2 separate regions of the Homo sapiens genome follow, and region 1 is linked to region 2. The links come from fine-mapping of genetic effects on gene expression. A gene starts in region 2. The other region holds a variant in brackets. All regions are shown on one strand. Distances are from middle to middle.

Region 1 (4,380 bases), 48 kb before region 2:
AGGTGAATGTGCAAAAGCCAAGTTTATCCTGAGTAATGCAACGAATACACTGGAGGGGGTGGGGCCGCGGAAGGTTTTATCCAGAACACATGTTATTGCCACTATTCTAGTTATCTTGGATATTTCCTGCATGTTTGTCACCATGGCAACTGACAGCATGAAGCCTGTTTGCTGGGCCCTGGGGTCTGGCGCGGCAGCCATGTGGTGTCAATTTGGCCCTCTCTGCTTCCCCCAGCTCCTGTCTCTCTGTCATGCTGCTTTTGGTCTCCGCCTCTGTCTCCCCGCCGCCTGTCTCTGGGCTTCTCTGTTTTCTTCTTCCAGGAAATAGCTGCCCCTGCATCCCTCGGTGACATAGGTATAGACAGTGTCCAGCTACTGCCACCCTAAGCCTCCCCTTAGTCCACACAGACAGTCTGTGACTAAGGGTGTTCCAGAATGGATGGGAAACTTGTGTGGCAGGGGATAGGCAAGAGATTGGCCTTCAGTGGAGAAAGGGCTCAGCCCGGCTCTGGGCTCATGGTTCAAAATGAGCCCATGCTACCTACTGCTAGGCTGGGGGCTAAAGATCCCTTGAGAAGGTGGGTTTGGGAGACACCAGTGAGGAGAGATGTGGGCTTCTCATCCTGATGTTTCCTGTGTGTGGGAGTGAGGGGTCTCCATCACTCAGATCCTTCCTTCCCTAGGCTTTTGGAGAAGACATAGGTAGAATGGCAGAGAGGGGTCTCAAATTCACAGAAGAGAAGCCAAGGAGAGAGGAGCTTGACAGCTAAGGGGCAGTGAGGTCTCTCGGCATTATGGGCTGCCTGGGGACCTCAAATCCCCAGTCCTTTCTCCCAGGTCTCTGGGATGTGGCAAGGACAGGGTGTGGCAAAGACATGGCCAATGGCAGTGTCCCTCCATGGGGACACCAGGCAACAGGGAGGGTGTTGACAATAATAGCCTGCGAGGGAGCTGTGCCAGCAGCTTGGAAAAAGCACCGCGAGCAGACAGGCGACTCCATGGGAGATGAGGGCATCTTCTGGCCCCTCTCTCCACCCCCAGGTCTGGCTTCCCTTCATTCTGGGAAGCCCAGGACTGGGCAGTTGCCAGCCACTCTGCTTCAAGTTTTCTGCATCCACACTGCAGAGGCCTTCCCAGGCCACCTTCCCAACCTCTACATCTGTCATGTGCTGTTTCTTATCATGCCCAATCCCCAGTCCCCACGCAAGGTAGGCCTGGAAATTGTCATGCAGCCAGAGCCCCAGGCAGGGCTGGCACCCACTGCGGGACTGCTTGGAGGAGAGAGGAGGGGCTAGGGAGGTGGAGTAGGGTCCAGAACCTGCCCTGGCCACAGCTCCTGCAGGCTCAGCTCCAAGGCATGAGGGAGTCTGGAGTGAGACAGGAGAGCTGGGGCGAGGCAGCCATCATGCTGGGCCCTGAGAGGACCGGCCCCGGGGCCAGCAGCCCAGAGGGTGCTGCAAATCAGCCTTCTTTTGGGTCAGCATCATTCCAAGGAGGTCCAATTCTCTGGATGGGACAGGGCATTGGGAAAAGTCAAAGGGCAGCCGCAGTGTGGCTCTGGGGCTCAGTCCCTTGCGTGCAGGGACCCTGTGGGTTCTGGGAGCCACAAGGGCCAAGGGAAGGGACTGCCAAGAATTGGGTGGTGTGGTGGGGCTCGAGTCGTATTGGAAATGCTGGAGTCTGAATGTTTGTGTCTCTCCAGAATTCATGTGTTGAAACAAAATCCCCAGTGTGATGGTATTGGGAGGTGGGGTCCCTGGGAGGTGATTAGGTCATGGAGGCAGAGCCCCTGGGAATGGGGTTAGTGCACTTATGAAACAGGCCCCAGAGAGCTGCCCTGCCTCCCTTACCATGTGAGGATATAGCAAGAGGCCACCATCTATGAACCGGGAAATGGGCCCTCACTAGACACTGAGTCCCTTTCACAGGAGGCTACACAAGCCTGACTGAGCGGGGCTCCATTGGGCTGATGAGGGAAAGGAAGCTCTCCCTCCCAAAGCTCTGGAAGATACTGAAACCCAGGCAAAGAGACAACCCAAGGCTGCTGTGTTGTAGAGGAGAGTCACCAAGGACCCCGGGACCCAGAGTGTGGAGGGCATAGATGCAGGACGCAGGTAGCAAGAGCCAGTGTGCAGCCTTGGATGGTGCCAGAGAGGCCTGTGCATTGGACAGATAGCTGAGAGGGGCAGCAAGCGTTCTGGGCAGGCGTCAGGCAGGCTTTGCTCAGGGAGGCTGGCTTTGACCTACTTGTGCCTGTGGAGCTGGGCATGGAGCTGCCAGTGGGCCAGACTGGGAGAGACATGCCAGGTCACCCCAGCCTCAGGGACAGTCCCTCTTTCCAGTGCCAAGGGTCCAGCCAGAGTCTCCAGCTT[T/G]ACTCAGAGTCTAAGGCAGTAGACGTTAGTCCTCACACTGCTCTGTTACCCAGAATGAGTCAATGACCTTCTATGGGCCTCTGTTTTCTGTTTGACTAATGAGGCTGGGGCGAGAAAGAACTGAGTTGCAGAGGAGGGAGTGGGTGCCCCTAGAGAAGGAGGTGGGCCTTGGAGGCTGAGAAGGGCAGTGAGGTTTGAGACGGCTGCAGAGGGCTCCAGAGACAGGCCTCCAGCTCACACCTCGAGGGCGAAGAGATTCTTCTGGAGTGGAGAGGAAGAGCCTCTGCACCCATCCCCATCCTCCCAGTCCTCCCCACGGAGACCACAACTCAAGACCCAGCTGTCCCCTCCCAGTGACTCAGGCTTTGGCTGCCCTCCTGCCCACATCCAAGCCCTGTCCAGTGCCCCATAACAGGAAGGGCTGTGGTGTGAGAGAGGAGGAGGGAAGGCTGCCCCGCCAAGGGCCTTCATGTCCAAGGAGCCATCTAGGTGGAGGAGTCCTTTGCACCCTCCTGGCCGTGTCACCCTCTGCCACCTCAGAAATGTGGGTTTGGCCTGAGGTGGGACTCTGTCCTCCTCCCTCTGCACTGAGCATGGAAGGCCACTTGTTTCTCATTAGCAAACTGCAGGATGTCACCACCATAGGGTGGATGTGCATTTTTGTCCTCTTTGCTGGAACGGTGGGGTGTGTGGGCTGAGCCAGGGACAGGGCAGAGGCGGTCAGAAGAGCTGACCAGAGCCTTGTGGGACCCAGGGCAGGGGCTGTGGTTATATGGGGCAAAGCTATTTGGAGGCCACAGGACACCACTGTCCCTGCTAGAACCAAGGGCAGCTATGCTAAGATTTGGAGAAGAGGGAAAGGCAGAACCAATGGCACTGTGGTTGTGATTTTTGGCAATAATTGTGGGCATTGATAATCATAACGGTAGCATTCATTTATTGAGGACCAGCCAGTGCTAGGTGGTTCATATATATTATTTCTTTAATTCTCTCAATAACTCTGTTTTACAGATGAGAAAACTGAGGCTCAAAAGGGTAAATAAATGACCTAGTTTTCACAGCAATTAAGCATTCAAACCAAGATCTGCACCCAGGTTGTCTGATATTTATGACTTTTCTTTCATTATGCCACATTGCCTCCTCTAGCCCAGTTGTTTTTTTTTTGTTTTTTTTTTTTTTTTTTTGAGACAGTCTCACTCTGTCCCCAGGCTGGAGTGCAGTAGCGCAATCTCAGCTCACTGCAACCTCTGCCTCCTGGGCTCAAGCGATTCTCCTGCCTCAGCCTCTTGTGTAGCTGGGATTACAGGCACCTGCCACTACATTCAGCTAATTTTTGTTTTTTCAGTAGAGACAGGGTATTTTTTGTAATTTTGTATTTTCAGCATGTTGGCCAGGCTGGTTTCAAACTCCTAACCTCAGGAGATTTACTTGTCTTGGCCTCCCAAAGTGCTGGGATTATAGGCATGAGCCACTGGGCCTGGCCTCTAGCCCGGTTCTTCATCTTTTTGTGCCATGGATGCAGTCCGAAGTCCATGGGCCCCTTCCTAGAATAATTAAAAAAAATAGATTAGATTTACAAAGGAACCCAATTATATTAAAATGTGGTTATCAAAACATTAAACACATGTGTGATATAGTAATATATGTGCTTTTTAACTAACACATGAAATAACAAGATTTCTGCCAGGCACGGTGGCTCACGCCTGTAATTCCAGCACTTTGGGAGGCCAAGGCGGGTGGATCACCTGAGGTCAGGAGTTCAAGACCAGCCTGGCCAACATGGGGAAACCCTGTCTCTACTAAAAATATGAAAATTAGCTGGGCGTGGTGGCAGGCACCTATAACCCCAGCTACTCGGGAGGCTGAGGCAGGAGAATTGCTTGAATCCGGTGGGCGGAGGTTGCAGTGAGCCAAGATTGTACCACTGCACTCCAGCCTGGGCGAAAGAGAAAAATTCTGTCTCAAAAAGAAAAAAAAAAAAAAGAAAGAAAGAAATAAGATCTAATAA
Region 2 (4,380 bases):
TATTAACATCCACACAAAACTCTCATTTCAGTTAAATCCTCTATAGAAAGACTTACTTGCCGAATGAAAAATCGTTTACCATAGCTTGTTAATAACATATAGATTCTTGGTCTCCAAAAGTGAACAATAGAACAGTGGAGGACAAACTAGAGTTAAGAGTTTTTTTCTGGCTGGGTGTGGTGGCTCACGCCTGTAATCCCAGCACTTTGGGAGGCCAAGGCGGGAGAATCATCTGAGGTCAGGAGTTCAAGACCAACCTGGCCAACATGGCAAAACCCCGTTTCTACTGAAAATACAAAAATTAGCCGGGTGTGGTGGCACGTGCTGTAATCCCAGCTACTTGGGAGGCTGAGGCAGGAGAATCGCTTGCACTCGGGAGGCGGAGGTTGCAGTGAGCCAAGATCGCACCATTGCACTCCAGCCTGGGCAACAAGAGCACCCCAGCCTGGGCGACAGAGTGAGACTCCGTCTTAAGAAAAAAAATTGTGTTTTTTTTTTCCGTCCTGTACTGACTTTCTTTCCAGGGGCTTTACAAAAACCCTGAATCTAGCTAATGCAGAAAGCTAACCTGCTTGAACAATACCACACTTTCAAAGCATTTCTTTTTAAAATTCACGTAAGAAGGTAAGGGAGGACTGGCATATTTCTCCTGAAGTTCAGTACTGAGTATTTATAAACTTAACTATTATTAGGGATCCTTTTGTAGTTAAGCTAATAGTAAGTAATGATGATGGGGAAAAAAAAGAGCTAACTGCTAATAATAACAATTTATAAAGAAGTTACAGTCCTTGAATGCCCACTGAGTGGCAGGTGCTTTTCACAAAGTATCGTATTTACGCTTCACAGCAACATTTTGAATAGAAATTTATTTTTCCTTTTTCTGTTTGAACAACTGAAGTTCATTGAGTTCAGATAACTTGGGGCAGGTCCAACGGACGAGTTGGAAAGACTCTGGGGCCAAAGGCTCACACCACGCCTCTCCTAGCCCCTGAGTTTTGCTACCTGCTTGCGTTTATGTGCAGGCAGGGCGGGTGGGTGGTGGTGGGGGAATCAGATGAAGCTGCCTAAGGAATTAAACATGGAAAGTGGTGGAAAGGCGAAGGAGGTATAAGCGGTGGGCCGCTGGAACCCTAAGAGAGACCAGGCAAGAACCGGGAGAAGGGATGCACCCGTTGGCGGCTCAGAGAACTTAGGTAGAGGCGAGGGGCGGGGCGGGGCGAGGGGCGGGGCCTGAACGAGGCTAGGGCGGGGCCCGAACGAGGCTAGGGCGGGGCCCGAACGAGGCTAGGGCGGGGCCTCGGGGGACAGAGTCGACCATTTGGAGACCTGCCAGAAGAGCCGTCTCTCCAAGGGAATGAAAGGTGAGGGGAGCGTGAGTGCAGGCATGATGGGAATCTCCGTGACTTGGTAAGGCAACTCACCCTTACCTGTCCTACACCCAAGAAAAGCCTCTTCTATGCTCCCCTGGGGTATCTCTCTTGCAGAGTAGGCAGGTCAATGACGAGGAGAGGGTCCTGCCCAGAGCGTGCCCCCCTCCGTCACTTGGTACGGCCCGTGCCCCCGCCGCTGATCTGGCAGGCTGCGCGCGCACACTCCGGCCGGGTGCGGGCCGGCGGGGCACAGCGGCCTCTACGGCCCGCCTCCGTCAGTCATTCCCCGGTCCCTCCTCCCGCTGCTCGCGTGCTCCGGGCCGGCCCAGCACCCTCCGAGTTACGTGCCCGCGCTCCCCGGCGGGGAGGAGCGCAGCCGCGGGGGCGCGCCCCGGTGACTCCGCCCCTCAGCTCCCCTCCCCTGAGCCCGGGAGCCCGGCTCGCGCGGCTAGGTGCGAGGAGACCCGGGACCCCACGCCCGCCCGCCCTGCCCAGCGCCCCAGCCCCGGCGTGCGAGGCGCCGCTCCCTCCTCTGCCCTGCGCGGTGCATGGAGGGGCCCGTTCGGATCGCAGCCGCCGCCACCGTAGCCGCCGCCGCGCGCGCGCGGGGGGATGACCTGGGGGTGGCTTTCCGAGCCGGCTGCAGCGCAGGAGGTCTGGAGGCTTAGCCAGCCCCGCGGAGAGGTGCGGGGGTGGGGGTCCCGCCGCAGGGTCGGAGGGAGGGGTGGCGCGCGGGCACTGGGCTTGGGGGGCCTTGGCTTAGGGGACGGGAGGTCCCGGGGACGGGCGGGCCGGCGTTCCCTGGAGGGCGTGGGGGTGCAGGGCTGCGTGCGGGGTCTGGATGCTGATGCTTGCCCGGCGGGGAGCCCCGGCGTTCCGCGTCCTCGGGGGCTCGGAGGCACCTCGCGGGAGGAGGCGGGGTGAGGTGTCAGTGACACGACGAAACCTCTTCTTGACGATGGTCCTCGGGGGCAGGTGAGATGCCGCAGAGCGGGGAGCTAGGGCGCCCGCGCGTTTTCCCAAGGGAGCCGGGTCCCTGGCCTCTCTCAATCTCCATCCCTGCAGAGCGCCCGCGAGAGACAGTGATTTATGTGTAGGGAGAAGCAAGAGAAATTTCCTGCACAATGTATCTTTCTCTGCCTTCACAAGACTCACTGACTTCCCAGCCCCAGGGAGTGTATTTTTCCTTCTCCTCTGTAAAGCTTTCTGTGGATTGCATTATCATTTGCTAAATACATTACAGCTCGCTATTTATTTCAGTCGGCAGCTTCCAGACCTTTGTTGCTTTCTCTCCACATCTAGGAATTTCAGCAATAAATCACTGAGGGGGATAGATAGACTCTCTTGCCCTTCCCTTCATTGTTCTCCCTAACCCCACCAAATCAGGTGGAAGGCTCTCCAAAAGGAGCTGTTTCCAGAATGCCTGCCCTTCCTCATCAGGACGACAGAGGGTGGCAGGTGCTTTAAGGGCAGACTGCTTTCCAGTGGGAATCCAGAATTTAGAGAACCTCATCAACAGAAAGTCAGCCTTTGTGTCCCAAACCAGACACCTTGAAAAACAGGAGGTTGGACTAAAAGCTCACATGAGATTTATTTTCAGGCCTATGCCAGTAAAGATGAAAGACGCCAAGTCAGTGAATTCTGATTCCTTTCGGCGCTGATAACATAACCCTCAAATTCCCAACTGACACTTGGCATACCTAGTGGACAGTGTCTCCAAGGAGAGGAAGGTGGGGAGGGTGTTAGAAAATGAAATGAGTTTATTGTCAGCATAATTCTAAACATTCTATGACATTTTGTAGTTCTCCCCCACCCTCAGTCTATTTTTAGCTGAAAATTTGGGGATAGTTCAACTTTTAAGATAAGATGAAAGAAAACCTTCAAAAAATTTTCTGGAAATTTTAAATTAGTGCTTAACTAGAAAGCATTCTTTGGAACCCGAGAAGCACCAAATACTGCAGTCTCTGTTATGCACATGTTGGAATGAACTGCCTCATACTTGAAGTTATATGAGAAGGATGGAGAAAACCTGTTTCATTTTGTAAAGACGTGCCCTGGGTGTGTGTTTGGCAGTGTGTAGAACAGAAACATTTATATTTCTATTAAGAAACACACAAATGTATACTGTTTAACTTTCATGCAAAAACTTCCCAGTGTTTGGGAAATCTGTCTTTGTTTGAATAGTTTAGTCAGCCAGGAGAATCAGTTACTAGAGGTACTGTGCTGTTGTTTGTGTAATAACTCACTTGGGATGCTTTGATTGATTGCCATGGTTCTCATCAGCCTCCTCTTCTGTGCAAAGTACTTAAACAGCTCTGACTCTCAAGCCTTCAAGTACAAAGAACCCTTAGGACTTGGATACTGATCTAGCTTGTGTAGCTTGGCTTCTAAATCTAGCTTACGCCTTGCTTTCTTTGCAGGTGGTTTGACTTTGCAGGAAAAGAATTAAGTTCACTTTAAGATAGGACTTTCTCCTCCAGATCGTCAGGGTATATACAGCTGAAGGCAGTAGGTAGGAATAGGAACTAATGTCCTAGGGCTTTGTTCTAAAGAGAGCAGGTAAAAATTTGTTGACTATTTCTTGGGCTTGCTTCTTATTTTCCCACTTCGCCCATCTGCCTTCATGACTTTGTAGACAATTTCATGTATGGTTTTGTCGAAATGTAAGTTGAAGTAAAATTTTCCTTCTGTAGAATTTTTTTTTTTCCACGAACGTTTAGACTAAAAATTGGTGATTGTTTCGAAGTTAAATACTAGGGAAATGATTTCAGGAATTAAATATTATCGTAGTAAAAATCAGGGAAGCGTTAGAAAATAAATAATGAGTTGAAAAATGTGTTGCTTTAACGTGTAATGATATGAGCCAGCGCCTTGTGATCAGCTATGGCATGATGTAGAAGTATGGGTAAGACAATACAGTGGAGCTGTAGATGAGCTGCGTACATGGTAGCCCCCCTTTAAGTAAATGAACTTAATACAAACTAATTAGATTAGAAACAGAATTTGGAGT

Direction of the effects. Positions count from the first base shown, and alleles are read on the strand shown. Sizes are in standard deviations (SD) of each study's normalised expression.
In carriers of allele T in region 1, the expression in fibroblasts of the gene that starts at base 1,767 in region 2 tends to be lower than with G alone (small effect, 0.15 SD a copy in GTEx).

Evidence for each region. PIP is the estimated chance that this variant, and not a neighbour inherited with it, causes the effect. A credible set is the group of variants that fine-mapping cannot tell apart.
Region 1: its variant is the best candidate, but not a certain one, in a credible set for the expression of CDON in fibroblasts (GTEx, PIP 0.53).

The regions. Positions count from the first base shown.
Region 1 is chr11:126,108,473-126,112,852 of GRCh38, reverse strand. No RefSeq gene overlaps it. Among named protein-coding and RNA genes, the nearest start is that of CDON, 48 kb to the right of the region's middle. The variant T/G (reference allele first, on the strand shown) is at 2,373.
Region 2 is chr11:126,060,253-126,064,632 of GRCh38, reverse strand. It overlaps CDON (cell adhesion associated, oncogene regulated), which reads left to right and starts at 1,767. Exons shown (of 20, transcript NM_001378964.1): 1 at 1,767-2,054. RefSeq lists silencers at 1,180-1,269, 1,340-2,009 and an enhancer at 4,210-4,380.